Homo sapiens: one gene and its partners. The protein of the gene in region 1 purifies or fractionates together with the protein of each later gene. This does not show direct contact. Each region holds a gene or a part of one and is shown in the gene's direction. Other genes may lie near its edges. The genes, in order: SLC7A5, NDRG1, SLC25A46, TMEM59, RNF122, OCRL and TMEM70.

Evidence for each region.
Region 2: the proteins of SLC7A5 (region 1) and NDRG1 purify together in Homo sapiens (affinity purification with mass spectrometry; one large-scale study listed by BioGRID and IntAct). This does not show direct contact.
Region 3: the proteins of SLC7A5 (region 1) and SLC25A46 purify together in Homo sapiens (affinity purification with mass spectrometry; one large-scale study listed by BioGRID and IntAct). This does not show direct contact.
Region 4: the proteins of SLC7A5 (region 1) and TMEM59 purify together in Homo sapiens (affinity purification with mass spectrometry; one large-scale study listed by BioGRID and IntAct). This does not show direct contact.
Region 5: the proteins of SLC7A5 (region 1) and RNF122 purify together in Homo sapiens (affinity purification with mass spectrometry; one large-scale study listed by BioGRID and IntAct). This does not show direct contact.
Region 6: the proteins of SLC7A5 (region 1) and OCRL purify together in Homo sapiens (co-immunoprecipitation; one large-scale study listed by IntAct). This does not show direct contact.
Region 7: the proteins of SLC7A5 (region 1) and TMEM70 purify together in Homo sapiens (affinity purification with mass spectrometry; one large-scale study listed by BioGRID and IntAct). This does not show direct contact.

The regions. Positions count from the first base shown.
Region 1 is NC_000016.10:87,863,008-87,866,507, reverse strand, and holds part of SLC7A5 (large neutral amino acids transporter small subunit 1), read left to right. Parts: intron 1-3,500. UniProt on the Homo sapiens protein: The heterodimer with SLC3A2 functions as a sodium-independent, high-affinity transporter that mediates uptake of large neutral amino acids such as phenylalanine, tyrosine, leucine, histidine, methionine, tryptophan, valine, isoleucine and alanine.
Region 2 is NC_000008.11:133,252,253-133,255,752, reverse strand, and holds part of NDRG1 (protein NDRG1), read left to right. Parts: intron 1-1,157; coding exon 1,158-1,214; intron 1,215-3,500. UniProt on the Homo sapiens protein: Stress-responsive protein involved in hormone responses, cell growth, and differentiation. Acts as a tumor suppressor in many cell types. Necessary but not sufficient for p53/TP53-mediated caspase activation and apoptosis.
Region 3 is NC_000005.10:110,763,007-110,765,657, forward strand, and holds the end of SLC25A46 (mitochondrial outer membrane protein SLC25A46), read left to right. Parts: 3' UTR 1-2,151; downstream 2,152-2,651. UniProt on the Homo sapiens protein: Transmembrane protein of the mitochondrial outer membrane that controls mitochondrial organization.
Region 4 is NC_000001.11:54,050,405-54,054,664, reverse strand, and holds the start of TMEM59 (transmembrane protein 59 isoform 2 precursor), read left to right. Parts: upstream 1-1,460; 5' UTR 1,461-1,476; coding exon 1,477-1,665; intron 1,666-4,260. Other genes in the region: TCEANC2 (transcription elongation factor A N-terminal and central domain-containing protein 2), read right to left, coding at 141-242.
Region 5 is NC_000008.11:33,550,129-33,553,628, reverse strand, and holds part of RNF122 (RING finger protein 122), read left to right. Parts: intron 1-2,239; coding exon 2,240-2,285; intron 2,286-2,543; coding exon 2,544-2,585; intron 2,586-3,500. UniProt on the Homo sapiens protein: May induce necrosis and apoptosis. May play a role in cell viability.
Region 6 is NC_000023.11:129,585,259-129,588,758, forward strand, and holds part of OCRL (inositol polyphosphate 5-phosphatase OCRL), read left to right. Parts: intron 1-1,743; coding exon 1,744-1,860; intron 1,861-2,920; coding exon 2,921-3,005; intron 3,006-3,500. UniProt on the Homo sapiens protein: Catalyzes the hydrolysis of the 5-position phosphate of phosphatidylinositol 4,5-bisphosphate (PtdIns(4,5)P2) and phosphatidylinositol-3,4,5-bisphosphate (PtdIns(3,4,5)P3), with the greatest catalytic activity towards PtdIns(4,5)P2.
Region 7 is NC_000008.11:73,979,195-73,983,283, forward strand, and holds the end of TMEM70 (transmembrane protein 70, mitochondrial), read left to right. Parts: intron 1-1,960; coding exon 1,961-2,427; 3' UTR 2,428-3,589; downstream 3,590-4,089. UniProt on the Homo sapiens protein: Scaffold protein that participates in the c-ring assembly of mitochondrial ATP synthase (F(1)F(0) ATP synthase or complex V) by facilitating the membrane insertion and oligomer formation of the subunit c/ATP5MC1 through its interaction.

The DNA.
Region 1 (3,500 bases):
GGCAACAAGGCGAAACTCCATCTCAAAAAAAAAGCAAAAATCAGCTGGGCGTCATGGCGCACACCTGTAGTCCCAGCTACTCGGAGGCTGAGGCAGGAGAACTGCTTGAACCAAGCATGGTGCCACTGAGCTCCTGCCTGGGTGACACATTTCTCCTCCTTTACCACCCCCGACCCCCAGAGTTTCTGCGGCTGACAGTGTATGCTTCCGGAGCTGCTTCTGTTACAAATATATCGCTGGCCTATTTATTTAAAAGATCATAATGTACAACTTGTTCTCCACCTTTTTTTTAAAGCCTAAAATGGTTTTGCCATGTTCCCAGGCAGTACGCAGAGGCTGCCCTCTTTAGCTGCTAAGAAGACTTCCCTGTGTCGGCAGGAACAAGTGTGCTCACCGCACCCCCGCCCCCCCATAGAACCCTGTGGAGGGCATTTGGGGTTTCCCAGCTTTGTGCAAATGGGAAAAGGGTATGTGGTTTTTTGCTTTTTGTTTTTGATTTTGTTTTGAGACAGAGTCTGTGTCTGTTGCCCAGGCTCGTTGCTCACTGCAACCTCTGCTTCCTGGGTTTAAACGATTCTCCTGCCTCAACCTCCGGAGCTTAGATTACAGGCATGTGCCTCAGCCTCCCAATTTGCTGGGATTACAGGCATGAGCCATCGCACCCGGCGGGGTGTGGATTCTAATGTAATAGCTAATGTGCCTTCCAAAGAGGCTGTACCAAGTCACGCGTTCCTGGATTTATTTTGTGGTAATAGGGCTTTAAAAAGTATTTTTTAAATTTATTTTTATTTTATTTTATCTTTGAGATGGAGTTTTGCTCTTACCCAGGCTGGAGTACAATGGCACGATCTTGGCTCACTACAACCTCCGCATCCCGGGTTCAAGCGACTCTCCTGCCTCAGCCTCCCGAGTAGCTGGGACTACAGGTGCCCACCATGCCCAGCTAATTTTTTGTATTTTTAGCAGAGACGGGGCTTCACCATGTTGGCCAGGCTTGTCTTGAACTCCTGACCTCAGGTGATCCACCCGCCTCTGCCTCCCAAAGTGCTGGGATTACAGGCTTGAGCCACCACACCTGGCCTAAAATAGCTTTCCAAGCAGTCCTTTTGGTCCCAGTAGGTAAAGCTTCAAGGCAGGCCCTAGAGTGCCAACCCTCTCTGACCCAGAGGTGAGGGTTAATGTTAATAGGGTCCCTTTCAGCGAAAGTTAGGGCCACACTTCTCATGTCCCTAAGCCATTTGTACTTGTTTTTTTTCTCTGACCCACCTGTGTGTGTGGTGAGTATGTGTGTATGTGTTGCTTTTTTTTTTGGAAAGTGATTTTCAGTAACAGAAAGGGATGTACTCTCTGCAAGAGTGAATCTATTCTTGCCCCTGTGTGTAAGGCAAGAAAGAGAAGCTGTGTTCTCTGAACAGGCAGACCCTGCTGAGAGAGGGAGGTGTGTTGGGGTTCAATCATTCTGGTGGGAAAGATATTAGAGATAGTTATAGAAATAGACACAAATCTTGGAAGGCCGAGAAGTTGGCATAACTTCGGTAATTAGCTCTGGCTGAAGGCGGCCTGATCCCTTTACCTTTAATTAAACAAATAAAAATAGTGATAAAAGAAAGGCAGCGTAGTTTACCTAGCTAGCTTGTTTACTCGCATAATCTTAAGACCGTGGGTGTTTAAGTGCTTTTTACTTGGGAAGTCCACAATGTCTGTTACATTCTAATGGTGTTGACTCAAGCTTTTGTTAGTTAATCATACTGAATAAATGCACGTCTGACTAGCTGATCAGGGCCAAGTAGCAACTGTTTACAGGACTCAGCAGGGAGCCTATAAGCGGCTGGGACCCTCAGCTGGACTGGCAGAGCAGAATATCTGTGTGTCTGTACTTTATTCATCTGTCACCGGGTCAGGGGTCTGCAAGGAGTGCTGTCGCAGAGGTGGGCTTTGCTGAGGCTGGTAGAACTCCAAGCTGATTCTCAGGTCATTCTGACTTCAGCTCGGAGAAGGGCAGTGGATGTCCCGGGAAGGGAGACCCTGCCCTTATAGGGGGGCTTCTGACAGGTGCAGGGGGCAGCCTGGAGCCCGGACCAGTGGGCAGGATGGGCGCTCCAGGGTGTGAAGGAGAGGCCGGGCGTTTGATCTGTGGACATTGCTCCTGGAGCAGTGAAAAGCCATAGAAAGTGATTTATTTTACTTATTTATTATTTATTTATTTATTTATTTTGAGGTGGAGTTTCGCTCTTTTTGTCCAGGCTGGAGTGCAATGGCACGATCTCGGCTCACTGCAACCTCTGCCTCCTGGGTTCAAGCGACTGTCCTGCCTCAGCCTCCCGAGTAGCTGGGATTACAGGCATGCACCACCATGCCTGGCTGATTTTGTATTTTTTAGTAGAGACAGGGTTTCTCCACGTTGGCCAGGCTGGTCTCGAACTCCTGACCTCAGGTGATCCGCCCACCTCGGCCTCCCAAAGTGCTGGGATTACAGGCGTGAGTCAGCCTACTCGGCTGATATATATATATATATATATATTTTTAAATGATCACACATAAGGTTGGGTTCTGGAATTTTCTGCTTAGGAAGGGAAAGGGCACCTTTTACCCCCTTATTCCTTGAGCCTGATCCTACAGAAGGTACAGTGGCTTTCGGGTCTGGATCCTCAGCCCTCGGGCCTCTGAGGCTGCCTTGGGAGAGGGTATAGATTTGAGAACAAGGTTCTCAGTTTTGCTGGCTGTCTTTTCAGTCGCCCAGGCACGTCCCACAGAAGGTTTCTTTTTGTGAAATAATCGTGTGAAATGGGTTGGCCTCGGTGCTTAGAACCATCCCACTGACGGTGAGTGAAAAAAATCCCTTGCTTGTCAGTCTGGGTAGGAGATGAGGTCCTTTCACGCGTGTCTTCGTGTTGGTGCGCTTTTCACTGGTCATAAAGGTGAGAGGAACCAGCTCCATGTGTCTCTTTCTGGATGGCCATATGGAACTTGGCATGACAGTAGGGTTGTGTGGTTATTTATTGCTTAACGAAGACTTGGCAGCGTGTACTGGAAATTCAAGCGATGCTGGGTTTTATCAGAAGGCGCAAAGGCTGGAGCTGAGATTCTGGCTGGGCCTGGATTTGGTTTGGGCAGTTTATCTGACCTCCCTGGGCCCCAGCTGGCTCTGCATAGCGAGTAGGGTAGCATCCACTCAAAGTCCCGGTCCACTGTGGCCCGGCACTGATCCAGGCGAGTTCTCAGTAAGTGGGAACTCACAGGTTCAGAAGATGCTGTGGGCCTCAGGGGCTTCCACCTCCAGGGAGGTGCTCTCAGAAGAAGGGCCCGATGGGCTCACTGCATCGTGGAGAAGATACCCTGGCTCAGTCTCAGTCACTTCTCCAAGCGCATAGGTGTTCGGGAAGTGGCCTGCAGACAGCTCCTCCATGCCTTGAAAGCAGAAGTAGCCCCCTCCTGTTTCCCTGTCCCAGTTGGGTGAAGCATGGGGGGCTGCTGAGACAGTCCCAGGCGTGCCGTCACGC
Region 2 (3,500 bases), on another chromosome or scaffold:
CCGATGGTTTGAAGGGGCCCTGCCTCTTGCCCCATCCCCTGCCCTGTACCAGCCACTGTGATTTTGCATTTGTTCTTTGAACATTCCTCCAGAATGCAGGAGCCCTTCCGTCCAGCCTGTATGACGTTCTGGAGTGGAACACACTCCCTGTTTTTTATTTGATTTTCCAGCAAAGGAAGTGACATTCCAGTCAACCCGCTGGGCTTCATGATAGCTGTCCTGAGTGAGACTCGAAGGTCTGGGGATGTCGACCACTGGCTAATGTGAAGCCTGAGGATTGTCTTTAATAGCTGTACTATTCCCTTCAGTACAGCTTTAATAGCTGTACTATTCCCTTCTTTTTCAACTCCAGCCTTTCGATTACCAGGCATTGGTATTAGATACTGTGATGTGTGCAGTTACTTCTTGCAGTCCTTCCCTTGACCTTGTGGCCTTGAAGTTCCTGGCACTCCCAGTTCCAGATTAGAAGTCTGAGACCCAGAGGTATGCAGACTGCCCAGTGCCACACAGCTAGGCTGTGGCAGGCAAGGGCCAGCCAAAGACCCTTAGGTCTAGAGCTTCTCTCCTACTCATTTTTGCCTAATGCTTAGGTCAGCACACATTTATGGAGCTTCTGCTGTATACTAGGACTTATAGAGCTCCTGCTGCAAACCTAGTCACTGGGGAGAGGTAGGAAAAGAAGATTGTCAGTGTCTTTGGTAATATCAGTATACTTAGAAAGGGGAAACTGGCTTGGAGATGAGAGAGGAGGGATAGTTGGGAGCCAAGCATATCTTGGGGTATAGACTGGGGAGCTCAGTGTGTTTTTAGAAGAGGTGAATGGATGGCCCTCTTTGCTGAGGACTTGGTGAATGTTTGGAGCAGGGTAAGCTAGCAGTAGCTGGGTCTTTATTCAGCACTTATTTGCTGTGCATCTTGTGCATGGGCCTCTGAAAATAAGGAACTGGATATAGTCCCAGGCCCTGCATTTGGGGGATCAGGTCCAGGAGGGAACTGGAGACAGGAACTGAGTTTCTATCAAGGGGGATGTCCTTGAGGCCTGCATGTAGGGGGGAGTCCAGCAATGCCACCCTGCACCCAGGGAAGTGGGGTTTTGCTGACCTTGTTAACTACTGTTAGCTCCTGGTTTCTCATCCACCCACTTTACTCCTTTCCAGATCTCAGGATGGACCCAAGCTCTGCCGGACATGGTGGTGTCCCACCTTTTTGGGAAGGTGAGTTGCGTGGTCTGGCAAATCTGTTGTTCCTGCTGAGCAAGGCATTGTGTGGTGCTCAGCACAGGGCCCCATGTGGGGGTGGAGAGAACAAGACACAATCAACTGGGGGCCACCGAGCTGGTGCTCATGAGATAATGTGACATTATTCATTCATAAGCAACAAGTCATTCATTCTCTCTCTTTTTTATGTGTCTTTTAAAAACAGCTGATTGAAGTACAATTAACTGCACATATTTAAAGTGTACAATTGACATGCATATACATTTGTAAAACCATCCCTGTAATCAGGAGAATAACGTCTCCATCACTCCAAGAGTTTCCTTGTGCCCCTTGATAGTCCTCCTCTCCCTCCTCCTCAGGCAACTTCTGATCAGCATTGGCCTCTATAGATTGCTTTGCAATTCCTAGAATTTTATATAAATGGCATTATATAGTAGGTACTCTTTTTTTTTTTTTTTTGGTCTGGCTTCTTTCCCTCAGCATAACCATTTTGAGATTTGTCCATGTTAATGAGTGGATCAATAGTTTATTCCTAGTCGGGGTGCAGTGCTCATTCCTATAATCCCAGCACTTTGGGAGGCCATGGCAGGAGGATTGCTTGAGCCCAGGAGTTCAAGACCAGCCTGGGCAACATAGTGACACCTTGTCTCTACAGAAAAATTAAAAATTGGCCAGGCATGGTGGTTCTGCATGCCTATAGTCCTAGCTACTTGGGAGGCTGAGGCAGGAGGATTGCTTGAGCCCAGGAGTTTGAGGCTACAGTGAGCAGTGAGCTGGGATAGCCCACTGTATTCCGCCTAGGTGACAGAGAGACCCTGTCTCTTAAAAAAAAGTTTATTCCTTTTTAGTGCTGAGAAGTATTCCATTTTATGTATGTGCAACAGTTTGTTTTTCCATTCACCTGTTGATAAGACCTTTGAGTTGTTCCCAGTTCTGGGCTGTTATAAATCTGGTCAGTAGCAAACATGTCCGTGGAGTTAGCTGTGTGCTGGGCTGGGCTCAGTCCTAAGAGCTTCACAAGTGTTAACTATAGGAATAGGATTCCACCCAGGTGCTCTGTGACCTGTGTGATAAATTCTGTTCTCATTCCCAGTTTATGGAAGAGGAAACAGACCAGAGAGGTTGAGTGACTTGCATAGGGTCTCAACCAGGGAGAGGTGGGGCCGGTATTAGAACCTATGAATCTGGCTTCATTCTGGTCACCACAGCAGGATGGCGGCTGCCTGTGCTGCTGCCTGGCTCTGAGATGAGCTGCTCTTCTGCAGAGTTACCCCACTAAAGGGGATTGAGCCAAGCCCCTCACAGCATGCTAGAAGTGAGCAGTCATCTTATCAGCCCAGCCTGCCTGGCCCCAGACACTGGTTTTGTGTCTCTAGCTGGGGCCAGCTACCCTCGGGAAGGGTATGCCATGGGCTTGGTTGCAAGCCCAGGGTCTGGAAAACCCCTTGGTTGCCTGAAATTGCAGTGACCTGCTTTGCTTACATACCACTGTCTGCTTCTGAGCTAACATGTGTGACCATCTGACACTCCCATGAGTCCTGGGGACACAGCCTCCACTCTGGAGCTGGCGAGTACACCAGGGGAACAGACGCCCCACTCTGGAGTTGACGAGTGTACCAGGGGAATAGAGGCCCCACTCTGGAGTTGACGAGTGTACGAGGGCAATAGAGGCCCCACTCTGGAGTTGGCGAGTGTACGAGGGGAATAGAGTCCCCACTCTGGAGTTGGCGAGTGTACGAGGGGAATAGAGCCTCCACTCTGGAGCTGGTGAGTGTACGAGGGAAACAGAGGCCCCACTCTGGAGCTGGCGAGTGTACGAGGGGAATAGAGGCCCCACTCTGGAGTTGGCAAGTGTACCAGGGGAACAGAGGCCCCACTCTGGAGTTGGCGAGTGTACGAGGGAAACAGAGGCCCCACTCCGGAGTTGGCGAGTGTACGAGGGAAACAGAGGCCCCACTCCGGAGTTGGCGAGTGTACCAGGGGAACAGAGACCCCACTCTGGAGTTGGCGAGTGTACCAGGGGAACAGAGGCTCCACTCTGGAGTTGGCGAGTACAACTGCTAGGTTTGCCTGTTGTGTTGGTTTCCTGTGGCTTCTGTAACAAATTACCACAAACAGGATGGCTTAGAACAGCGAAAGTGGGATGAGCAGGGTGGCTCACACCTATAATCCCAGCACTTTGGGAGGCTTAGGCGAGTGGATCACCTGAGGTCAGGAGTTCGAGACGAGCCTGGCCAACATGGTGAAACCCCGTCTCTACTGAAAATACAAAATTAACCGGAT
Region 3 (2,651 bases), on another chromosome or scaffold:
TACATTTGTACATTTCAACATATAATAAGCAAAAAAATTACTAATCAGTTTAATAAAAACATTTTGTCTATTCCTAAATGTAATTTGGTGGGTTAAGCACTTTGTGTAGTAAAATGATATGTGTCTGCTCTATCATTAGACATTTTAAAGTTTCATGTCTTCACGTGAATAATCACAGTTGTATCATGAACCATTTAGCGCTCTGAAGCACAGTGACTTTGCACTGATATTGTCCAACCAAGAATGCATACGAATAGAAATTCATTTTACTTGCTAAATGTCACAGAAATGGTTACTTTTTGCAAATAGTAGTGTTGGAACAAAAAAGTGATATCCAAAAAGTGTAAAAACAGTAATAAGTAGCAAATCTCTCGTGTGTGTGTGTGTGTAGTTACTGAAACACCTACATTTTCCATTTTTAAATTCCACCAAAAGGGGGAAAATAAAATTAAACACCACTGATCACATTTTATATTTTATGGTGACTATTTTAGATTAAGGTTTACTTTGTCCAACCAATAGCATTTAAATTGTTTTCAATTAGGATAGTTTCAGATAAGAGTAAACCAGAAAATTTCAAGTTTGAAAAATTTCTAGAAAAGAATCTGAATAGAATCAAGTATTTACTAGTGAAAATCTGTAGGATCCTTTGTTTAGCTAAAAATTAAATATTTCAGGATATTTTTTGGAAGTTAGCATGAAAATAGTTAGTTACATAAATTCATTTTATTGTAGAATAATTATAAGACTGATAGGCTGAACCATACACAAATAAGGTTGATCTTGTTTTCCTTTTTGGAGAAAGAGAATACAAATTAACATTAAAATTGAAATGTAGAAAGTAAAATATGAATAATTTTTTACAACCACTCCAAATTAGTTGAAACAAAATCTTGAACGGTCACGCACTTAAATTTAAGCTAGCCAAATATGTTGCACTGAATTTTGAAAAGAATGAGTGAGATAACTGTAAGATACGCTCGTTCCCTTTTAAAAATTGTTATTTTTCTTTAACATGGGTGCCAAATCAAATATCCATGGGCTATACTTCTTAAGATAATAACAGCTCAAAATAATATTTTTTAATTCAGTAGAACTAATAGCATTATGGAAAAGATTCTATTAAATGTTCCACAGGCCCACTGGTCCTCTTATATAAGCCAAATTTTGGCCATGGAGCTTGTGATACACTTGCCTTACATTGTAGGGTTTCTTAATTTGAGTCAAGTACACTGAAAGCAATTAAAAACTGGTAAATATTAATTTACTATGTAAAGTGAACTTACGAATTAACTTACTAAATACATATATGTAGACCTTCCCGAAATGCCATTCTCAATTTTATTTTATGGGCTCCAAAAAAAATTATCTGGGTTAATAAGGTTATCTATTAAAGCCCCCAGAATCTCAGCACTAGATGTCATAAATATGAAATAGTAAAAACAAGGTCACTTGAAAATGGGTATTTAATACCTTAGCTGGTGTTTTCAGAAGCATACAGAACTGGAAAGGTAAGAACTTGCTTACTATTGCAGATATACCTGACCACTCACAACTGTCTTTTTAGCAGCAGCTTTGTTAAAACTGCACAAAGCATTCACTTTATTGATTGAGTACAAATGCTTTAGTGTTTCTACCTAAGTATTAGTACATCTGTTCAGGAAATGGAAAAAAAAAATGCTGCTTAAATTTGTTTTATCAGCTGAGGTTGTGGAGGATTTTTGTCCACTGATCTTTTGCAACAGAAAAGCATACTTTGTCAGCTTCTAATAAGATAGCCAGGTTTGAATTATTTGCAAAATTTATATAAGCAAATAAGATCTCTTGGTAACAATTGACATTGCACTAGAATTTGAATGATACTGTTGTTGGCATTTCTGTTTCTCTTTCAAGTAGTTGTAAATAATCTCTTTTTCTCATATAAACGGAATGCATAATGTCTTACTCTTGAGTCATTTAGTATCATTGATATGGTACCAAGTTGTATAGCAGAGTAACAAAATCATGATTTGACAATGAAATTTACATATTGCCTCACCTAGAGATGTTTTGTCTGTATGACTTTTTTTTTTTTAAGTTTGTCTTACTGTTACTTTAAATGTTTTGGGTAAATTGTGTAATATGAAAAGTTCAATAAAATGTCGAAATAAAGCCACTGTTTTTCTCCTACTGATGTGAGAGAACTATTCAGGCTGGTGGTTAAAGATGAAGTATATTTTTTTAGGTAGAAAGGAAGATCAACAAAATATGTGAAGTTAAACTTTTTTGCACACTATTTTTTAAAATCTCTATAGCCTCCTCACCACATCCCTATGACATTTTTGGAGTTGTGCTGTTTGATTAAGAATAAAATAGATACAGAGAGGAGGTGATTTGTCCTGCATTTCACAACTAGGAGAGTAACAACAGAAAAATGACAAATAGGCAGCTCCAGACTCCCATCCCTCCATGGAAAGAGAAGAAAACAACCAGAAACTGTCAGAACCAACTTTGTCAGACTCTGGAAAACAGTCAAAAGTTTACAGCAACTATGTGAATGTTAAATCAAGAAAAAGGCAACTTATTGTTAGGAAAGCTTTGTGGCTTTGACTTACCTTGGCTCCTGTCTTCTCTGTGGTTCAGTGGCATGGCAGTCTTAAAAATGGCAGCTT
Region 4 (4,260 bases), on another chromosome or scaffold:
ACAAAGGAGGAGTGGTCAGGTACACTTTGAGGAGGAGGCATAACAAGAAATAATTCATAGGTCTTTCCACAACAGAACCTCTAGCACCACCTTGCTATCAGTCCTTTGCACATTTCCTCTAGCCCCAGATCCCCTCTCACCTTCAGAGATTCAATCGTGGCCTGCTTGTAAACCTTTCCTCCAGAATCTTTCTTCTGAGGGCTATTCTGGATTCTAGGCGTTCGAATGACGAATTTATCCATTGTTAGGGGACTCCGACTACCTTGACGTGCTTGCAGCGTGTTCTGGTCAAGAAAGAGGGCAGATTCTAAAACCCCACTAAAGACTGCCATGATATTTTTTCCCCAAAGTAACACAATTGAGTTCTCTGGAAGAATTCATGAATTATGGGGCCTCGAGTGGAATTGACAGGAAGTAAGATTTTCTCTTTAAAAGAAAGATCTTCCGAAGAATTGAAACTGTAATCAATCATCAGTCTACGTCCTGAGTTAGGAGGTTCCTAGCTTCCAGAAGTGCACGCTCTAGCGAGGATTCCAACATTGGGGGAATTGGCCCAATATTGGAATCCCCGCTAGAGCGTGCACCTAAGCCCTCTTCCAAATAAGATTGGGCTGTGAAAGGGTTAGGATTACATTAGGCTCAGTGACGCCCTCTTAACAACCACCTCACCACAGCCATAATCCCAAGGGTTGCCCTGGTAATCAGCAACCGACAACCACCTCCAGAACTCAGCAGAGGGTCTCACAATACGCAGCATCCCCTAGAACAAACTGCTCGGTGGTCAGAGGACCCTACCCACGGCTGTAATCTCTGGATCCCCGAACAAGGAGAAACCCCATCCTCCTCGTTCCCAGCACTCAGGAGCCCGGGTAGGGGCACCCAACAACGGTCTGACGTGAGACCCACCAGGAAAAGCAGCCCTGGTAGCTGCTGTTGGCGCCCTCCAGACTGCAACCTCGTAGGCTCCCAAGCCCAGTCGTCTGTGTTGAAACTAAACAGACGCTTCCTCCCAGGGCGGTAGTTCCTCTGAAGAAACTCCGCCGGCCCTCGCGCCTCTGGGCCACAGCGAACCACATTCCCCAGAATGCACTGCGAAGAAATGCGGGCGGAAGGCGCGCTGAGGGCGGCTGTAGTTTTCCGAGACCAACTTTCCCGACAGCACCGTGCGCCTCCCGCCTACGGAGAACTACATGCCCCAGCCTGCCCCGCGAAGGGAAGAAGTCAGGAGGCCCCGCTTCGCGCTAACGCTTGCGATGGTTGAATTCCCCTCCTCACGCCAGCCTAGGAGAAGAAGTTCGTAGTCCCAGAGGTGAGGCAGGAGGCGGCAGTTTCTGGCGGGTGAGGGCGGAGCTGAAGTGACAGCGGAGGCGGAAGCAACGGTCGGTGGGGCGGAGAAGGGGGCTGGCCCCAGGAGGAGGAGGAAACCCTTCCGAGAAAACAGCAACAAGCTGAGCTGCTGTGACAGAGGGGAACAAGATGGCGGCGCCGAAGGGGAGCCTCTGGGTGAGGACCCAACTGGGGCTCCCGCCGCTGCTGCTGCTGACCATGGCCTTGGCCGGAGGTTCGGGGACCGCTTCGGCTGAAGCATTTGACTCGGTCTTGGGTGATACGGCGTCTTGCCACCGGGCCTGTCAGTTGACCTACCCCTTGCACACCTACCCTAAGGTAGGGCCCGTCCGGAGCGGGCTGCGACCCTTCCCTTGCAGCCCATTTCTCGGCTCCCCACACGTATGTCGGCTCTGGCAACCTGGCTGTTAAATCGGCCCTTCAATCGCTGTCTCCCATCTGTGTAGCTCCTGTTTTCCTCCCTAATCCTGCCTGCACCCCATTTCTGCTGTCATTACCGGAAGTTTGTCCTGCACTACCCTGTGATAGGCTGGGGGACACAAAGATGAGAAAGACGCGATCCCTTTCCTCTGGGAGCTTGCCGGGCTGCAGGGGAGTCGAGCACTCGGAGGAGGATAGGGGAGGATATGGATGATTAATGCGGGGTCCTCACCTAAGGGAGCGTAAGGGGGGATTGTAGAAAGGGAGGCGCAGATACGCGAGTCCACAAATGATTGATTGATAACCCTTGTTTACTAAGCGCCTCTCGGGGCCAGGAGCGCAGTCTTCGGGGAGTCAGACAAGTAGACGATTCCACTGTGGTATAAAAAGCGTCACGAAGGCAGCTCAGGGAGTAGCGAGACGCTCAGGAATGCTGTCTGCCTATGTTGAGTTACTGTGTCCAAGACGCTGCCAAGAGGGACTGGGTTAGAGAAGAGGCAATTAGGTGTCTGCCTACCAGAAACTGACCACTCAGTGCAGAAAACGGGGAATTCGTGGAGTGGGTGAAGAAATGAGACTGTGGACAGGAGGGGGTTCGCAGCTTACAGAGAGGAATGGCCCTCCTCTCTATGCTTCCCCCCTTTCTTTTAATTACATACCTAACCCTCTTCACGTTGGTTTTTCAGCCTAAGAACTCTGTTTACTCAACATTCTAAATTGCTTGATGATTCCCACCACACCTTTCCCATGTATGATTTGAGTATATGCCCTCCCCCACGTTGTTTTATGAGAGCTTTTGTTGATGTTGCTGGTGGTTTCCTCTTCGTTTTTCCTTCATCTCCTCTATGCTATTTGCTTAACCATTGTGGCTGGACCTCCTTGCTCTCTAAAACTGGAGTGGCTACGGAGACAGTTCCAGTGAAGCTTAGGATGTTCCATATTGGCGAGTATTTTCAGGTCTTTGAAATGAAAAGTTCTAAGTGCCGGCACTTCTCAGATTTTGTTACGGCTGGATTTTAAACTGCATGGAGATTATCAATTTTCAAAAAAAAGTGTGGGAGAAGGGACTGTACTAAATTTTTCCAGAGATTTATGTAACAATCGAGAAAGAAGTGAGAAGTTTTAACTTCAGACTTAAATCAATGAATACTGCTTCTAACCACGTTATTTTTCTCCACCTCTTGTAAACTTCTCATCATTAAGAGGATTGTATGAAGAAGCTCATTAATATTGATTTGGCCTGGAATTGGGTTGAGACTTACTTTCTATTGTTCTAGGGTTTGTTTCCTTTTTTGGGATTTTCTCGGCAATTTTGTGGTATAAACCAGAATGTTGGGAAAATAATCAAATAATTTGAAAGGATACCTTCCTGGAAGTTGTAGGTACTTTAATAATGTCCACTATTTTCTAACAATTGGTGTTATATCTATAAACTATTTTTACTTATTTATTAAAGCTTTTCTCACAAAGAACTCCAAATCATCTGGCTCCCTATAGGTCCTGGACTTGAAATTTATATAGACTCCACTGTTAGCCAGAGTGATGGGAGATTTATCATACCATTATCCCTAATTCTCACAACAACCCTGTAAAGTAGGGTTTTAAAATTAAGGAAATTGAGGCTCTGAAAGGTTAAGTGACTTGCCTAAGGTCACATACCCAAGAAATAGTGGAGCAGGAATTCAGCTTAAAACTGGCTACACTATGCTGCCTCCTATTAATAAACTTGCATTAAACATATTCGGCCGGGTGCGATGGCTCACGCTTGTAATCCCAGCACTTTGGGAGGCCGAGGTGGGTGGATCACCTCAGCTCAGGAGATTGAGACCAGCCTGGACAACATGGCAAGACCCCGTCTCTGGAAAAAAGAAAAACAAAAAAACTAGCCAGGCATGGAGACGAGCACCTGTAGTCCCAGCTACTCGGTGGGAGGCTTGCTTGAGCCTGGGAGGCGCAGGTCGCAGTGAGCCGAAATGTCGCCAGTGCACGCCAGTCTGAGAATGAGACCGTGTCTCAAAAAAATAAAAATAAAAAAATGCCGGGCGCGGTGGCTCACTCCTGTAATCCCAGCACTTTGGGAAGCTGAGGCGGGTGGATCACCTCAGGTCAGGAGTTCAAGACCAGCCTGGCCAACATGGTGAAACCCTGTCTCTACTAAAAATACAAAAAAATTTAGCCAGTCGTGGTGGCGGGCGCCTGTAATCCCAGCTACTCAGGAGGCTGAGGCAGGAGAAGCGCCTGAACCCGGGAGACAGAGGTTGCAGTGAGCCCGCGCCACCGCACTCCAGCCTGGGCGACAAGAGGGAAACTCTGCATCAAAAAAAAAAAAAAGAAACATATTTAATTATGTCACTGATTTCTATTGGCTCTCCTCTGTGCTTTGTGCTCCAGGAAAAAGCACTGTGTATTGTAAGAAATTAGATGAATTTTCAAACTCACATAGCGTTTGAAAAACGAGATAGAAATCTCGTTTTAGGCTGGGCGCGGTGGCTC
Region 5 (3,500 bases), on another chromosome or scaffold:
ATCCATCTATCCACTCATTTGTTTATTTATTTTAATTATTTATTTAAAAAAAATTTTTTTGCCAGAGTCTCACTCAGTTGTTCAGCCTGGAGTGCAGTGGGGGCAATCCTAGCTCATTGTAACCTCTGAACTCTTGGGCTCAAGGGACCCTTCTGCCTCAGACCCCCCAAGTAGCCAGGACTACAGACATGCACCATCATACCTGGCTAATTTTCTTTTGTTTATTTATTTTTGAAGAGACAAGTTCTCACTGTGTCACCCAGGCTGGTCTCAAACTCCTGGCCTCAAGCAATCCACCTGAGTTGGCATTATTCTTTATTTCTGTTTTCAACCATTTAAGAATAAAAACCACTCTTAGCCTCTAGACCCTGCAAAAACAAGTAGTGAGCTGGATTTGGTCCTCAGACTAAAGTTTCCTGCTTCTCCTGGCTTGCTGGGTTTCTATGTTTCCTTCCAAATAACCCAGGACTGTGTTTAGAAGTGATCACCAGGAAAAGCTCCATAAGGTTCCCCCATAGCACACATAGAGGAGGCATTCTTTTTTTTTTTTTTTTTTTTGAGACAGGGTCTTGCTCTGTCACCCAGGCTGGAGTGCAGTGGTGCGATCTCTGCTAACTGCAACCTTCGTCTCCTGGGTTCAAGCGATGCTTATGCCTCAGCCTTCTGAGTAGCTGGGATTACAGGTGCATGCCACCATGCCGTGTGAATTGTCCTGTGAATTTTTGTACATTTTGTAGAGATGGGGTTCTGCCATGTTGCCCAGGCTGGTCTCAAACTCCTGAGCTCAAGCAATCTGCCCACCTCGGCCTCCCAAAATGCTGGGATTACAGGCATGAGCCATCCCACCCAACCCACATACAGGAGGCATTCTAAAGCTACCTGCAGAGTTCAGCATGTAAGATCCTCCATCCCTTCCTTGAAAATAATACGGCAAAAAATCCAGTGTATAATTATGGTCTCGGCCATTTGCACAGCAAGCCATTCAGAGTTGTAAACTTAATAAAAGGTAGGGTGTGTCCCAAGACCAGATCATATTCTCAGGACTATGATGTATTCCACCTGATTAGGGGAACAGACCACATTATATGGTAAAGAGCTTGGACTCTGTCATCACACCAACTTTGATTCAAATCTAGACTCTGCTACCAATTAGCTCTGTGATGTTTAGGCAAATAAATTCACTTCTTTGGGCTTCATTTTTCTTTTTCTTTTTCTTTTTTTATTTTTATGAGACAGAGTTTCGCTCTTGTTGCCCAGGCTGGAGTGCAATGGCGCAATCTCGGCTCACTGCAACCTCCGTCTCCTGGGTTCAATCGATTCTCCTGCCTCAGTCTCCCAAGTAGCTAGGATTACAGGCATGCACCACCACACCGGCACATTTTGTATTTTTAATGTGACGGAGTTTCACCATGTTGGCCAGGCTGGTCTTGAACTCAAGTGATCCACCTGCCTCGGCCTCCCAAAGTGCTGGGATTACAGGCATGAGCCACCGCACCCAGCCAGGCTTTATTTTTCTTATCTGTAAAAGCGAAGGTATCTCACTCTTGGAGTTTGGAATCATTAAGAACATATATGAATATGTTAAGTGTCCCAGCGACATATAGCAAGTACTTCATAACCATTATATTATGCTATTGCCATTAGTAACGGCATGCCATGTTTTGGCCATTGAGAGTCAGCCCGTTTGCAGGCCACCAGCTTAAAATGAAAAGAAGAAAACAAAGGAGGCATCGTCTGTGTTGTCCGGCACAGTGAAGGGAAGAGTGTGCTTTGGTTCCAGAATACTTATGTTCTCCGGGTGGAAAATTCCCCAGGGTCAACAGAGACTTATTCTGCTATCCTGGCTTAACAGAAATAACCCTTTTATGCATATCTGTCTAACTTCCGCACACTCAGTAAACACAGTGTTGATTTCTATGTAGTTTGGTGACTGAAGGAATTTGCCGACCAGAAAAAGGCAGGGTGAGTGAATGAGCTATTTGGGGATGCTGTGCTGGAGGGTCCCCCAATCTGTGTATGAGACCTGGTGGTGAATTTTGAGGCTGTCAAACCCGAGTAACAGTCTTAGTCCTTTATCAACCCTTGTTGGCTTGCATAGGTCCAAAGTATGCCCTGTGGTGTGTATGGGACAAGCACCCCTCCCTGCCCTCGGAAGAATGCCCAAGCAGCCAGCCAGCCTCTCCTGCTTTGAATTGTTCCATTTAACCTGCTTTCTCTAATTTTTTTCTCTTTCTCCCAGCAAACTGCGGAACCAGGCACAGAGTGAGCGATACGGATATAAGGAGGTAAAGTGCTGCGTGTTTCCCAGAAGCTTCCTTCTCTGCCTGACCTGATAGGAAGAGGCAAGGAGGGCAGGCTCAGGTTCTCCTGGGCAGGAATCCCCCTGGCCTCACCTCTGGGTCTCCCTGAGGCTAAACCCCTTCAGTGTCTGAAGTCCGGCTTGCCCCAGGCAGTCCAGGGGACTCCCTTCATTGGTTGATACTACCTGGCTGGCCCCAGTGGTTGGTTCTTCTTTGGACATCATGCCTCCTCTTTCTTTTCAGGTGGTGCTTAAAGGTGATGCCAAGAAGTTACAATTATATGGGGTAAGTGTGCCAGGAAAGTGTGCAGGAGGGCCCCAGCAGGTGAGGCAGACAGCACCTTGCTCCAGTTCTCTGCCTGGACGCTTTTCAGAAAACTGCTTAGTCCATGCCTTCATATCTCCTTTGGCCAAATAATGGAGACACATCTCAGCAAGTAATTAATATGTGGAATTGATTACACCTGGAACAGCCTCAGGCAGAAGACATGAAGGGATCACAGAAGGGTTTAGATAAGTAGTGCCCCACAGCCCCAGGAGTCCCACAATACATAATTTTTACCAGGAGGATGGTCGTACCCTTTCATGCCATAGACAGAATTCAGCTAACTTTCCCTATGTTCAGCCCCTACATCCTGGTTGTTATCATAGGAAATGAGGTCCTTTTACTTTTGTATATACCCCATCTTAACAGACTAGATCTGACTAGTGTGTTCATTCCTGTGGCTCTGCCATTTCTCTCCCACCCCACTCCCACCCATACACCAGTTCCTTGAGTCCCCTCAACTCTGACTTGAGGAATTAGTCATATCCTATTCCTTTCCTACCTATGCCTCTAAGGTCACCTAACCCATTTCCCAAGGCTCCTGTTCATGACCACAGACACTCCTACTCAGAGCATGTTTGTGGTTGTCTGGGAGCAGAGCGGATCACAGTTCCACTAAACATGAGACTGCCTAGACGTGGCCTCATTTTGTCTATTACACCTCTGCAAGTGCTGATGTTTCCCAAGCCTTTCTCTCAGAGAATAATTCAACTGAGATCAAGGGAGTTAATATGTAGGGATGTGGGAAGTCTGGATTTAAAGAATGTAACTGGGCCAGGTGCGGTGGCTCATGCCTGTAATCCCAGAACTTTGGGAGGCCGAGGTGGGTGGCTCACCTGAGGTCAGGAGTTCGAGACCAGCCTGACCAACATGGTG
Region 6 (3,500 bases), on another chromosome or scaffold:
TACTGACACTTTATTAACCTTTTTAAACCACCAAGGTTTGAGACAGCTGTGCTTCCTAGCTCTTCCCTGTTAAGAGCAGTCCATGTTCTGTCTTTTTATCTTAGGCAGTGCCTTGTGTTGCCTTAATGCCTTAGTACAGGAAAAGCTCCAGTTGGATGTCAGACTTTTTAAAAAGTACATGAATCAGTGCTGCATAATTTCTATATGGCAAGTTTGGAGGCATCTGCTAAAGAATCAGTACACGTGCTGCATTTGGTCCAGAGAGTTAGCAGAGTGCATGATGGACAGTGTTTTGTCTCAAATACCATGTGGATGCTTGGATTTGATATTTGTAACTGGAAAGAAGTAAATGGATGAGCCATTGATAGACATTCTGGCAACTATTAGGAACATGAATATCAAGTGATAGAATCCCAGGGAAAGAAAGGAAGCAAACTGAATGTGGGGAAAAAAAAGAAAGATTTTAAATGGTAACCAACTGTCACACTCCCTTCTCTTTCTTATTCCCTTGGAAAGGCACAGCAGCTTTTAAAGGTCATCAGTGCTTGTTAAAGAACACAATGTTAAGAAGAGACCTCAGCTCGGCTGTAGTGTATGTGGTCTCTGTCAAAGTAGTGACATGCTCCTTTTTTTTTCTTTTAAAGCTACGTGACTGGGGGTTGTGGATGGAATTCACAAGTTGCACAATGTTAGGCAAGAATTTCTTAGTTAAACATACAGAATATATATGACCTCAAGCTAGAGGCGGGGGAGGGAGGAGGATGCAAAAAAATTGGTCATGGTTCTCTCCACTGGGATTTTTATGAAGGGTGCCTTCAGGTGCCTTTACTATTTCAAACATTTTTTCATGTAATTTATATTTGATTACATGAACCTAAGATAACTGAGTTTATTTCCTAGCCATTTCCAATTCACATATAGTGATTGATTTGATTTATGTCACTTCTGGGTTTTTCTCTTACAAAATTCTTTCAGAAGAATATAACAGATAGTAGAAAGATAGATGAAAGGAGTAAAAGCCCCTAGAAATCTTGGCTGAGCTATTCCTAGAAACTGTAACTTCTGGACTCAGACCTTAAACTTTTCGTGGTATTTCTGCCTCTTGGTTAGCTGTATTCAGTTTACTATTTTTGGACCTTAAGGCTTACGAGTTTTAGCACCTTAAGATTAGAACTTCCATCAAGCCTGAAGTATTTACATATGTGGGTCTAATGTTGTGGAGAGTTGTCTTTAATTCCTGAAAACTAAAGAAGCTAATTTAAATCAACATTGAAAACAAACAACAGTATCTGTGGTAAGACCTGAAGGAAGAGTAAGTTAGAAATAAACAAAAACCTAAGTGTAGACCTTGATCTCTCAAACTACTGTATTGACAATTGTAATTTAATAGTCCCCAAGTCACCAGTGCTGTATGGACTCCACTGTGACTGTATCACCGGAGCACTGGTTCTCAGTGTCACCTTTGAAAGGATTTAAACACAAGGCATCCACGTAATAAACATCATAAACGCAAATGAAATGCAGAACAATTAAGTGAAGCATTTAGGAAAGGACATCCTTTAACTATGGGACTCGCTATCAAGTGCCTTCTGACCAGGAGTGTCCCCAGTGAGAAGAAATGGAAAATCTTAAGAGATGAAGATCACATTTTACCTGCATGACCAGAATTTGAAGGACTTTAAGTTATACACCAAAGTCTTTATTCTGAGACCCCTTTGATTCTCATACTTTTCCATCTATTAGGAGAAATCCCTTCTGCAAATGGTTCCTTTGGATGAAGGTGCCAGTGAGAGACCCCTTCAGGTTCCCAAGGAGATCTGGCTTCTAGTAGATCACCTATTCAAATACGCCTGTCACCAGGTAAGTGAGAGTAGACCTTCCCTACAACTTTGGAAGGTGTGTAACTACTATAGGAAATCACAACACCTCACGTCAGCATAGCGCTTTTAACTTTCCCAAGCTACCTGCACACAGTGGCACTGTCAGATCGACTGGGTGGGTGGAAGTGTCCTAGTCACAGATGTCACAGCTGAAGCATGTAAAGGTAAGTTATTTACTAAGACAAAGGCCTAAGTGTAGTTGTGGCAGAGCCAGGACCAAATTAAGAGCACCTGTCTCCTGGCTACCCTCTCATTTTCCCTGGACAGCTGCACACCTGAGTCTATAATGCCTACTTTGGCTATGAGTCATGTAGGCATTAGAGATTGTAAAATCCAAAGCAGATTTTAAACCCATTTTTTAACTTGGTCCTAATTTTTCTTTTAAATCCTAACTAAAATGCCACCCCACCTCATTCGCCCCCAAAAGAGATATTTCTTGGGACTAAATTGAAAGGTAATGTTCTCTTACCTACTGACGAATAATGTAACTTGAAAGCAAGGTTTAGTATGAGCATGCGATTTCCTCCTTCCCCAGCGTTCAGTAGTACTAGCATTTGAATGTGGTTATTCTGTTTGGACTCTGCCTTCTGCTGCTTGTCAAGAGGCTACAAGTAGGCCAGGCATGGTGGCTCATGCCTGTAATCCCAGCATTTTGGGAGGCAGAGACGGGCGCATTGCTTGAGCTCAGGAGTTTGAGACCAGCCTGGGCAACACGGTGAAACCCCATCTCTATAAAAAAAAATTTTAAAGGAGGCTAGAATTAGAACACCTGGTTTCCTGCTCTAGCCATCTAGTCCCCTGCCTTATTAGGTACAGGCTAAAACCTTTGAAAAGATCATTTTCCTATTTGAAATAACATTTCACATGGATTAGAGAAATGCTAAAGGAAAAATGTGTTATTTTCACACCTCCATTTGTAATTATTAACACACATACCACCCTTCCCTTTTGCTTCCTGCTGCTCTTCTGATCCTTGGGTAATCATCATAACCTCAGGAGTGATTATCTTGCCTGTCCCTTCATTCTGACTTCTTTGGTAGGAGGACCTGTTCCAGACCCCTGGAATGCAGGAAGAGCTCCAGCAGATCATTGATTGTCTGGATACCAGCATTCCTGAGACAATCCGTATCCTTTGCGACCAAAGCTTAAGAAGCTGGATGAGTACTTGATCAAACTCTTCTTCGCACCTATATTTGATTTTTGTGGTTCTATATTTATTTTCTTTGTAATATCTTTTATTATAAGATAACCACTGACTATCCACTTGTTTCTCATTTCCTTTCAGGAACTTTTGACCTCTTTCCATATCCAGCTCTTACTAAAAGGAAGCAAGGGGTAGATAACAATGACTTAAAAGCATGGGACATAGAAGCCACAGCACTGGTACTATTCTCCTTCAGGTGATCAGTCACTCCTGCCACCACACGTACTGTTGACAGGGCAGGGAGAAGGATGGGAAACATGGGCACCTGGTTTATAGGACTGCTCCAGTGTCAACTGTCACTCTGCAGGCTATATTCCCCTGACCCTGAAGCTGGGCCAAAGCTGCCAAGAGTCTTTGACCAATTCTGTAACAACTCACCTGCAGGGCACTTGAATCAATAAAATATCAAACCCCCA
Region 7 (4,089 bases), on another chromosome or scaffold:
ATTTTTGTATTTTTAGTAGAGACAGGGTTTCACCATGTTGGTCAGGCTGGTCTTGAACTCCTCACTTCAAGTAACCCACCCACCTCGGCCTCCCAAAGTATTGGGATTACAGGCGTGAGCCACCACGCCCGGCCTCTATTATGTTTTAATATTTCGAAGGGGTAACTTCCCCTCATTGCTTTATTTTTTTATTTTTTGCTGCTTTTGTTTTTCCAAATAAACTTTATAATCAACTTGTTTAGGATCTCAACTTTATTTTCCAAACAGATGGTATTTTTTATTAGGATCGTATTAAAATTATAAATTAAAGGTAAGGTAAATTTACATTTTAAGTCATTTTTTATTGTGGTTAGATAAACATAAAATTTTTCACTTTAATCATTTTGAAGTATACAGTTTAGAAGCCATTTTTTAAAAATAATTTTTATTTTTTAGAGACAGGGTCTCTGTCATCTAGGCTGGAGTGCAGTGGTGTGATCATAGTTCACTGCAACTTCAAACTTGTGGGCTCGAGTGATCCTCCCACCTCAGCCTCCCAAATAGCTAGGACTACAGACATGTGCCACTACACCTGGCTGATTTTTTTTTTTTTAAGCTAGTCAAATTTAGCAGTGGGGACATTGTATACCAACTTTAGTGATGCCAGTGTTAAGTTCTGATAACTCATTACCATCAGACCAGCCTTGGCTAATTAAAAAAAATTTTTTTTGTAGAGACAGGTCTTCCTATGGTGCCTAGGCTGGTCTCAAACTGGTCTCAAGCAGTCCTTCTGCCTACACCTTCCAAAGTGCTGAGATTACAGGCATGAGCCACTGCACTCTGCTAGAAGTCATTTATTTTTAATCTTTCTAAGGTAATAGGTAAAAATGGTATCTCAGTGTTTTTTTTGTATTTTTTATTATTTATTTATTGAGACGGAGTTTTGCTCTTGTTGCCCAGGCTGGAGTGCAGTGGCACAATCTGGGCTCACTGCAACCTCCACCTCCCAGGTTCAAGCAATTCTCCTGCCTCAGCACCCCCAGTAGCTGGGATTATAGGTGCATGCCACCAAGCCTGGCTAATTTTTGTATTTTTAGTAGAGACAGGATTTCGCCATGCTGGCCAGGCTGCTTATCTCATTGTTTTAACTTGAATGTCTTTCCTTACTAAAGAAATTGAATACCTTTCCCATATGTTTCTGTTTTTTTTTTTTGAGATGGAGTCTCGCTTTGTCTCCCAAGCTGGAGTGCAGTGTGCAGTCTTGGCTCACTGCAGCCTCTACCTCCTGGGTTCAAGGATTTTCCTGCCTCAGCCTCCTGAATAGCTGGGATTACAAGCACTTGCCACCATGCCCAGCTAATTTTTGTATTGTTAGTAGAGATGGGAGTTTCACCATGTTGGCCAGGCTGGTCTCGAACTCCTAACCTCAAATGACCCACCTGCCTCAGCCTCCCAAAGTGCTGGGATTACAGGCATGAGCCAATGCGCCTGGCCGTCCGATATGTTTTTTAACCACTGGTTTTATTTCTCTGGTGATTTGCTGTTTTAATCCTGGGCACTTAGCCTGATAGAATTTCCCATGTTTGAATATTTTATGTTAGATATACTGGAGTGCTTGTTAATAGAGAGTTTTGTTTGATAATCTGCTATCTGAATCAACTTTTGTAGTACAATATTAGTAAGGATCTTTAAGTAATATTAACTACTTTATTGTGGAACTGAGGTAGGGCCACTTAAACCCTAAAGCAGATTTCCTGCCTGGAGAGGCAGTGCATTCTAATGGTCAGTAGCAGGGACATTGAAGTCAAAATATGTAAAGTCCTTAAAACAGAGCTTAGAATATAATAAGCACTGTATTTATGGTTTGATTTTGTTGTCTTGAGCTGATACAGTAAGAAGAAAAATGGAAGAATTAGTGGGATAGATTGATTCTTTTATAAAATTTAAAAGTATTGATCCTCTCTCTTTTTTTCCCATTTAGGTGTGAAATGTTTCTCTTATTCTACGAGTCTGATTGGCCTTACATTTCTGCCATACATTTTTACACAAAATAATGCTATTTCTGAAAGTGTGCCTCTGCCTATTCAAATCATATTCTATGGCATCATGGGAAGCTTTACGGTGATCACCCCAGTGCTGCTTCACTTTATTACAAAAGGCTATGTCATTCGATTGTACCATGAGGCCACAACAGACACTTATAAAGCCATTACCTACAATGCTATGCTTGCAGAAACGAGTACAGTGTTTCACCAGAATGATGTGAAGATTCCAGATGCTAAACATGTATTTACCACATTTTATGCTAAAACAAAATCACTGTTAGTTAATCCAGTGCTCTTTCCAAACCGTGAAGACTATATCCATCTAATGGGTTATGACAAAGAAGAATTTATTTTGTATATGGAAGAAACCAGTGAAGAGAAACGGCATAAAGATGACAAATGAGCCTATTTGTTAGTGTTCGTGCTCAAATGTGATTTACGTTTTAATGTATAATAATAAAATTGCCTTTTGCATTCCGTTAGTGACTGATTGTTAAAAATAATTTGAAATTATCAAAGCTTTTAATTTCCAGAGAATGATGTTTGTTTATAATAAAACAAGCTATGTTTGAAAACCAAAATGTAGTATCTACCATTCGTGTTTTAGAAAGGTATGTGAATAAATATGTTCATGCTAGTATAAGAGTTCTGTGTTACTGTGGTTGACTCTAAACTGGGGATCTGATGTCAGTAGCAAATGGGAGAGTTGCTTTATTCTTTGTGTATGGATTTTTCTAAGTGTATAAATATTTTCCGACATTAAAAGACATTTTCTCTTTGAGGAAGACACAGTCATAGGTGGTGCGGAGCTGTGGTCCACCTGCTCCTGCTCCTGACTCACTGCTCTTTGCTGTTGCCTGAGGACCAAGTCTGTCAGGAAGCTGGCTAGGAAGCCTTGCAGCAGCCATGGCTTTTAAACATACCAGAAAAACACCCGTGGAGTCAGAGGTGGCAATTCACCGAATTCATATCACTCTAACGAGTTGCAACGTAAAATCCCTGGATAAGGTGTGTGCTGACTTGATCTGAGGAGCAAAGGAAAAGAATCAGTGAAAGGACCAGTTTGAATGCCTACCAAGACTTTGAGAATCACTACAAGAAAAACTTACGGTGAAGGTTCTAAGGCATGGGATCGTTTCCAGATGAGAATCCACAAGCGACTCATTGACTTGCGCAGTCCTCAGATAGTTAAGCAGATTACTTCCATCAGTATTGAGCCAGGAGTTGAGATGGAAGTCACCATTGCAAATGCTTAAGTCAACTGTTTTCATAAATTGATTACCAGTTGTTAAAAAATTTTCAAAAAACCGCAAAATTTCAAGAAATTCACAAATTATGGGAGCAGTTTTAAGTCTTCTTTGGTTCAGAACACAGGTTTTTGCCTAACCCCTGGCATGATTGCCCATAAGAACATACATGTACAGTTGAACTGGTGGTTAGCTATACGGGAAATGGTAAGTAGTGTTGTCTTCAGTATCTTAATTTGTTTCTGCAACTGTGCACTCCTCCCTTGGTGGCACCCTATGGGTGTAGGAAAACCACTGTTATTAAACAGGTGAAAAATACCTTGTGTAAAATTGCTGTCTCTATGCTAGCTTTGTCAAGAATATCCATTGTAAGATTTTTACCTCTATTGTAAAGTGGAGATTGACTCTTGCCAAGGATTTTTAGCCAGGAACAAGAGGCCTCAAACCACACTATTTAGATCAGTAGATATTTACTAAGTGCCCAGTACTGTGCTAGTTACTAAGATCACAGTTAAGAATGAAACACCCCGTCTGTCTTTATGGAGCTACCTAACATTGTCTATGGCCACCATGATAGTAAATTTAAACTTTATGGCGTACATGTGTATGAGGGAGGTTGATGGGGAAGCAGCAGGAACATCTGTTCAAAGAGATCATTCAACTCCCAGGCTGCTCGAAACTTATTCATAGGAGATAAGACAGAAAAGCTGTCTTTCTGAGACGTAGAGCCTGCCCTCTGCTTGGATTGTCCAGCTCACCAGACTGAGAATTCCCACCGCCATTCCTCTGTGCCATCTTCTGCTCAAGGTGGGTTTTTG